Linked DNA regions of Homo sapiens. The protein of the gene in region 2 interacts with the protein of the main gene of each other region in a pairwise test. Each region holds a gene or a part of one and is shown on either strand. Other genes may lie near its edges.

Region 1 (3,500 bases), about 89 Mb from region 2:
GCTGCATTATTTTGAAATACTAAAAACTTAGGATAAATTCCATATAATGGAATGCTTATGCACCAATTAAAATTAGAGCTACAACACAAATAACTCTCAAAAACATAAGATTGACAAAGAAAAAGGAAGCTGAAGCAGGTTATATACAGTATACCATTTATGTGCTTTTAAACATGAAAAATTATATTGTTTAAGTGATACATTAGGAATGCAAAACATTCAAGTTTTAGATAATGGCTACCTCTTGAATAAAGGGGATTTCAGCCATATCTAGTATTTATTTTTTAAAAGTAAATATGATAAAATGTTTCCTTTTGTCAAAGGTTTCCTTTTGTCAAAGCTAGGTGTTTTCCCTATACTCTTTATGTTCAAATGTGCTTTAGTGGGTAACAGAGAGTCATCAGTAACCTAGTCTTGAAAGCCATCAGTTGCAGTGGGTTCTGCCTATAAACCCAGAGGTGAATGCAAAGTAAAAAGAAAAAAAAAAAGTTGGGGGGCAGGGAATAAATGGTGAAGAAAAGGCTGGACGTAAAAAGGAATAAAAGCCTGTTATTTGCAGCAACGTGGATGGACCTACATGTCATTACATTGAAATATGCCAGGCCCAGAAAGACAGTATCACATATTCTCACATGTGTGAGCTAACAAACTTGATCTCGTGGATACAGAATATAGAATGATTGATTGATACCAGAGTGTGAGCATGGGAGGAGGAAATGTAGAGCAACTGGTGAATGGGTACAAAAAGAGTTAGATAAAAGACAAGCTGTATTGCTTGATAGCACATTACAGTGACTATAATTAGCAACAATATATTGTATATTTCAATGTAGCTAGGAGAGAGGACAGGAAATGTTACCAACCCATAGAAATGATGAATACTCAAGAGGATGGATACCCCAAATACTCTGACATTATTATACATTTTATACGTGTAACAAATACATGTACCCATAAATATGTAAAATATCATGTATCAGTAAAAGAAAAAGGCTGGATAGAGAGAGGTAAAAATAGGAGAAATGAGAGCAGTCAGTGCACATAAGAGTAATATGCTTGTTATACTGTGTGGCTACACTGGTTAAGGAAATTCCTGCTGCATATAACCCAAATTTGCCATTAGAGGTTAAGAAAACTTTCCACTTAACAATTTAAAAATTATACAACTAAAACATCCATTATTTAAAAATCAACATAAAGAAGCAAAAAAAAAAAAAAAAGAATAGTAATCAAAATTACACCGTTGTTGATATACTGTATTCCCTTCTAGGTTTTGGGTTAATACGTCTGTACATTTTTTCTTTTTTAAAAAGAAAATGAGATCATACTAAAAGAATCACACTGTTTTATAACCTTTTTTCCCATTCACCAATATGTACTGAAAAACAGTATTTTAATGGCTGTATAGTTTTTCCATTATGTTAATATGTCATAATTTACTATGAATCTCCTGTTGAGTTATTTTAATTCTAATGTTTCACTAAACATTTTTAAAAAACATCTGCAGTAGAATCATAACATACATCTTTATTTCCCCAAGATAAGTTGATAGATGCTAAGTGAAAAGGTATGCATATTTTTGAGGGTTTTAGATCCTCTCTAGTATTCTACTTTTCCTATTAGTATAGGATAAATAAGACAAGATGACTGAAATGAAAAGGATAGGTGTGAGACATTAATATTATCAATTATTCAGCATAGACATGTGTAGATTTTATTTGGAATGCTGCAAGTAACATGTACTACTTGGGTCAAAATAAGCTCATTACAAAATAGGTTATCAAGTAGTTCATTATTCTAGTTAAGAATAAATTGGGTCCCTACGTTTCCCTTTTTGACCTAAGACATTTTCCTTTGTAAAGAGTACTTGGAAACTGGAAGTACCAATGGATTTTCTTTTCTCTATTTTTTAAAATAAAGACTTCATGAGTCCTCTCCATTAGTACTGTAAGAGAAAATGCTCTTGGAATAAACTCTAAGATACATGACAAAATAAGCTGCCCTCAACAGATAAAATCTTCACCTACTTTGGTCACCAGGGAGGTTCAAATTAGCCGGGTATTAGAAAAGTTTCCATCAGTAGGAAAGGGAAAGCATCCTCTAGAACTAGATCCGTGGTGTGGATATCAATTGAAAGGCCATACTTGGGATGAAGGCATAAATAAGGTAGAGTCATTGTGGAGATGGCTCATAGAGGAAGAGACGTCTGTGAATTTATCCTCAAATAATTTTCTCATAAATAAAACTTAACAAGTTAATAGATCTCAAAACCTGGAGCTATCCAAATGGTGCAGTGATAAGCGTAGTGCCCCAAGTACATTTTTCTTTTAATTGGTATTCACATAACTAGCTATAGTAATAATTATTAAATAGTGAAGTCCATTGTGAAAAGCAAGGGCCATGTTTCATTTATTTTTGTTTTTTGAGCTTTTATCGCGTTTAATAGTAGGCAATCAATCATTGTTGAACTAAATAACTCATTCTTTCATTCTTAACAGACTGGATTATGGACAGAACTTGGAAATATTGAGAATAATTTCTTAAAGCCACTTCATATAGGACTTAATATGTCAAAAGCACATTATGAAGCAGAAATTAAAAATAGCCAAGGTTGGTAATGTGCAATTTTGTTTTCAATTAGGTCTAAAAAGTAGTCTAATTTTGGAACTGTCATATTCAAATTTAAGAACTTTTTAAAAATCTTGTACTTTAGAGACCATAACAGCTAAGCCATTTTATTTATAGTTAAAATTCTTAGCAGATCTATAAGCTAATTTACCTAAAATCGGGTTAATGAAGACTTAAACCAAATATTACATTGTAAAGCCTCAAGGTCTGATTAAGAATCTGTATTACAGCTATTTCCGTTTGGGTACCATTCCTTTGGTATTGCTGGGTCCACTCTCCATCTCACTCTCAAGTAAATCCATACAAATTATGAAAAGAATCTTAGATCCAGAATTTTTTTAAGTCAATAATTCTATAATAATCGTGTGATCTCTTCCGTATATCTGTGGTGGTGCTTTTATAGGCATTACCGGAAATTTTGTTTTTAGTATAATGGCTATAATTCTGATTATATACTGAAGAAAACAGTTTCATGAATCCTATACATGCCAAAATAATGCTATTTATCTAAAGAAGCATTAATTTACATGTTGCAGAATTTTGATATTTCATTCTGTTTGCTTATAGCTTAAGTATACCCTGAGCTGTTAAACAATGGACTTAATAATTTATACAAATAACTGACATGTTTTAAGTTAGTGAATGAAAGTAGCTTATACCTTTGTTATTGAAATCTGAGAGTTAAGTGTCACACATGATTTTTCTTCTCTTACAGAGGCCCAGAAATCTAAAGATCTTTGTTCTATAACTGTAAGTGGAGAAGAGATCCCTAATATGCCTCCTGAAATGCAGCTTAAGGTGATCTGAAATTTTCTTTTCTTTCCTTTTTCTTCTTTAGAAACGGGGTCTTGCTATCTTGCCCAAGCTGGAGT
Region 2 (3,500 bases):
GGGCTGTAGAGTGCTGAATGAGACCCTGAGTCCCTACAGACTGGAGAGAAATGCGGGAGCAGGGCCCTGGGGCCACCTACCCTGAGGAGAGAAGCCGAGAAGCGCCTGGGGCCAAAACCCTGGCACCCTCGCTGACCTCATTGCTCCAGCTGGGAAGCAGAGACTGCCCGGCTGGACAGCTCTTCCCCCGGGAAAAGCCCGGGCTGCAGGCCACTGGGGCCCAGATCAGAGAGGGAGGGAGACGAAGGCGGCTGGGCGGGCCAGAAACCTGCTCACAGACCTTTCCCACTGAGGACCACAGGAAGGTGAGCTGCCCGTGTCCATGAGTGAGCTCCCTCGTGAGGGTCCTGCCAGGGTCATCGGCTCTCAGCCCCTCCCTGCTGCGCCCCAGCTTGCGGGAGGGCGGTGGTCGCTGGGGCCTCTCTGGAGGATGCAGCGTGGGGGCGTTTGCGTGACCAGAGCTTCCTCAGGCCTAGGAGGGCCACGGCGGGAGAGGAGTGCTGGCTGTCCTCTGGCTGAGGAGGCCAGGTGGGGTGGGGGAGGGGCTCTGGCGGGTACCTACCTGGTTCTTAGCCTGCCTGCACAGTGTATGTTTTAAAGCCTCAGAATCTAAGGTGGAATTAAGCACATCTTTAACTTCAAATGCTTCCTCAGCTGCTCTGCGGAGGTCCAGCCCCTTCCCAAAAGTCGGCATCGGCTCCAAAGCTAACAGACCGCCTTCGTGGTCCTCAGCACACCTGCACCAATGACCGGGGAGAGGGAAGGCCTGCTGTCAGCAGCCTGGCCTTGGCCGCCTCTCTGATGCTGCAAGCCCAGCTCCGGGCCTGCATGCACGCCGCTGCATCTCTGCCAGCCACATGCACAGGGAGACAGACACACGGACACACAGACGCCTGGACGGGAAGGCACACGGATGCAGGAGAGTGACGGACAGAGGTCAGGGAGGGGGTGAGTGCGTGCACACGCATCAGGCAGCAGGCAGGGGGCTCAGGTCTTGCCAGTGGAGGGTGGAGAAGAAGGCTTCAATTCTCTAAGACCCCAGGCAGCTCAGAGAGGCCCGGGGCTCCCTCTCCCAGGACTCAGGGGCAGCATCCAGGCTGGAGAGGAAGTGCCACCTCCGAAGGGCCTCCCCAAGGGCATCTGGGAATGCTGGCAGTGTCGCCCAGGCCCGATATTGGTGGCGAACACTGAGGACATGGGGAAGTGGCCCTGGCCGGCACAGAATGGTGGGTGCTTGGCCCCCGTGTGCCCACGGCCCTCTAGTGGCTGCACGCGCTGTCCCAGGCTGACAGGCAGCTCTGCTGCAGGGCCGGGGGCCTCCATGTCTGCTCAGTGCAGGGAAATGCCTTCCCCTCCACACTCTGCTTCCAGCCTCCAGGGCCCCTGGGGGTGGGTGGGGGGGTTAAGGGCCCCTGACCCCGTTGCCCCTGGCCCAGCCTTGCCCTGGCCTGTGTGTGGAGGCCCTGAGGTGGCTGTGCTGGAGTAGGGGCTGAGCCAGGGATGGGCTCACGAGTGGCTGAAGAGGGAGGTCCCCCTCGTGATGGACGCCCACGTTCCCTCCCTGCCCCATCCTGGAGCACACGGCTGCCCCCACCTTCGGGTGTGGTCAAAGCCCACGGCCAGGGAGGCGGCTGGCTCCTCATCCTCCTCATCCTCGTAGGCGGCCTGGGGCTCGGGTGCGGGGGACACGGTGTCATCCTGCGACTTCCCGGCCAGGCTGTCCTCATCGTCCTCCTCCAGGTCATCGTCGTCCTCCTCCTCCACGTCCTCCTGCTTCTCACTGGCTAGGCCTGGACACTGGGCACTGCCGTCCACGATCTGCATGTCCGCCCTGAAATGATGCAGGAGGAGATTGACTGAGTTTGGGTGTCTCTGTCCTTCCCATGGACCCCCAAAGGCTGGTGACTCCGCTCTGCCCCCACTGCCTCCCCCGACAACACTCAGCCCCCTTCCTGAGGGAGCTCCCGCGGGTCCCTGGGCCCAGCCACTGACTCTGCAGAGTGAGAGGCACGGAGGCCTGGGGGCGATCCCGGGAGAGGAGGGCAAGCGCTCGGGGCGGTGGGGGCAGGGCAAGGCCCAGCAGCAAGCTGCTATGGCCGGGAGGACACCAGGGCCGGGGCGGTGTTGGGGTGGAAGCAGTGGGCAGTCCTGTGGGGAAGCTGGACCTGCACTGGCACGGGGGTTGGGCAGTGCACGAGGGGCACCCTCAGGGCAGACTTCAGGGGGAAGGAATTCAGGCTGACAACTCGAGGACGTGGGCACTGGCCCGAGAGCCGGGAGCCCTGGAGGGCTCTCTGGGATCTGGAGAGTGAGGGCCCAAAGCCTGCTGTGAGCAGTCTGAATGCACCAGGACAAGCTTGCTTCGGAGCCTGTGGGGGGACTCTTCTGCAGCCCAGGGCTCTCCTGACTTCCCTCAGGGTCACTGCAGCCCGGCAGGACCCCTCCACTCCGGTTCCTCAGTATTAAATAAAAAAGAACAAAGCGTGCATGGGTGTGGCTGGGCATTCTCATTTCTTTCAGGAAGAGCCACTAGAGTTTGGCTCATCTTCATGTTCACGACCAAGAGCTGTGTCTTGGGTGGGCTGGGCCCCAGGGGAGCTGAGGGCCCCCGGGCACATGCTGGACATACTGGTAGAGGGGCCCAAGCAAAGGGCAGGGCACGCAGTTTCTGGACTGCCCATGCCCAGAGCCCCAGGGCCACTCTTCCTTGTCCTCACTCCGCCCGGGGGCACTGCCTCCCGCTGCCCTGGGAGGTATCCACGGTGTGGGTGAGATGCAGGGGTCCTGCTCTTGGCATCCAAGCAAGAAAGTGACAGCGTCTCACGGCGACCGACCTCCGTGTCTCGGACTCGCCTGTGTGCACGGGAACTGGGCTTGGGGAGGCCACAATTTCCTGGCTCTCCACAGATGGGCCACGTGTCTATCTCTTGTCTTTCTGCCTTCCAGGACGGACAGAACCTCACCAGGTTTCAGGGCTTGAGGAGAGTTCCTCGGTCCTGGTCGCCTGTGTTGGGGGCCAAGAGCGTCCTGTACACACACCCATCTCCTCAGCCACGGAGCTGCTGGGATCCGGGTCCTGGTTCTCACCCTGGTTGTTGGTGAGGTGCCCTCGGGTGGGGTTCTGTCTTTGGGGCCTGTGCCCTCTCGATGACACGAGGACATACCCCTCCCTGTCCACTCTGAGGACGGGATGAGATGGCGCAGGGTGAGAGCCCAGGCTCATCACATGGGCATGTGCTGTGAGATCTCATCTGGTGGCCCCACGTGGGTTTGCATGGGCTTCCCACCAGCTGGGGGCAGGGACTTTGCCCTCTTTATGTCTGCTGCACACCCCCCATGCACAGAGTATTTGCTTTTTAGTGTTGGGGAGCGGAGCATCCGGCACGGACACAGAATAGGGCCCAGTGGCTGGTTTGGCTCCAACAGGGAGGACAGTCAGTTTCCCAGAGCTGCCCAAACCAAGCCCCACAGAATGGGGGCCTGAAGCAACAGCCGTGGAC

The links. Proteins that work in one complex are often made in the same cells at the same time.
Region 1: the proteins of PRDM16 (region 2) and GLMN interact in a two-hybrid assay, tested with the Homo sapiens proteins (one large-scale study listed by BioGRID).

What each region holds. Positions count from the first base shown.
Region 1 is NC_000001.11:92,246,988-92,250,487, reverse strand, and holds part of GLMN (glomulin), read left to right. Parts: intron 1-2,498; coding exon 2,499-2,610; intron 2,611-3,343; coding exon 3,344-3,426; intron 3,427-3,500.
Region 2 is NC_000001.11:3,429,203-3,432,702, reverse strand, and holds part of PRDM16 (histone-lysine N-methyltransferase PRDM16), read right to left. Parts: intron 1,832-3,500; coding exon 1,595-1,831; intron 738-1,594; coding exon 563-737; intron 1-562. UniProt on the Homo sapiens protein: Binds DNA and functions as a transcriptional regulator. Displays histone methyltransferase activity and monomethylates 'Lys-9' of histone H3 (H3K9me1) in vitro.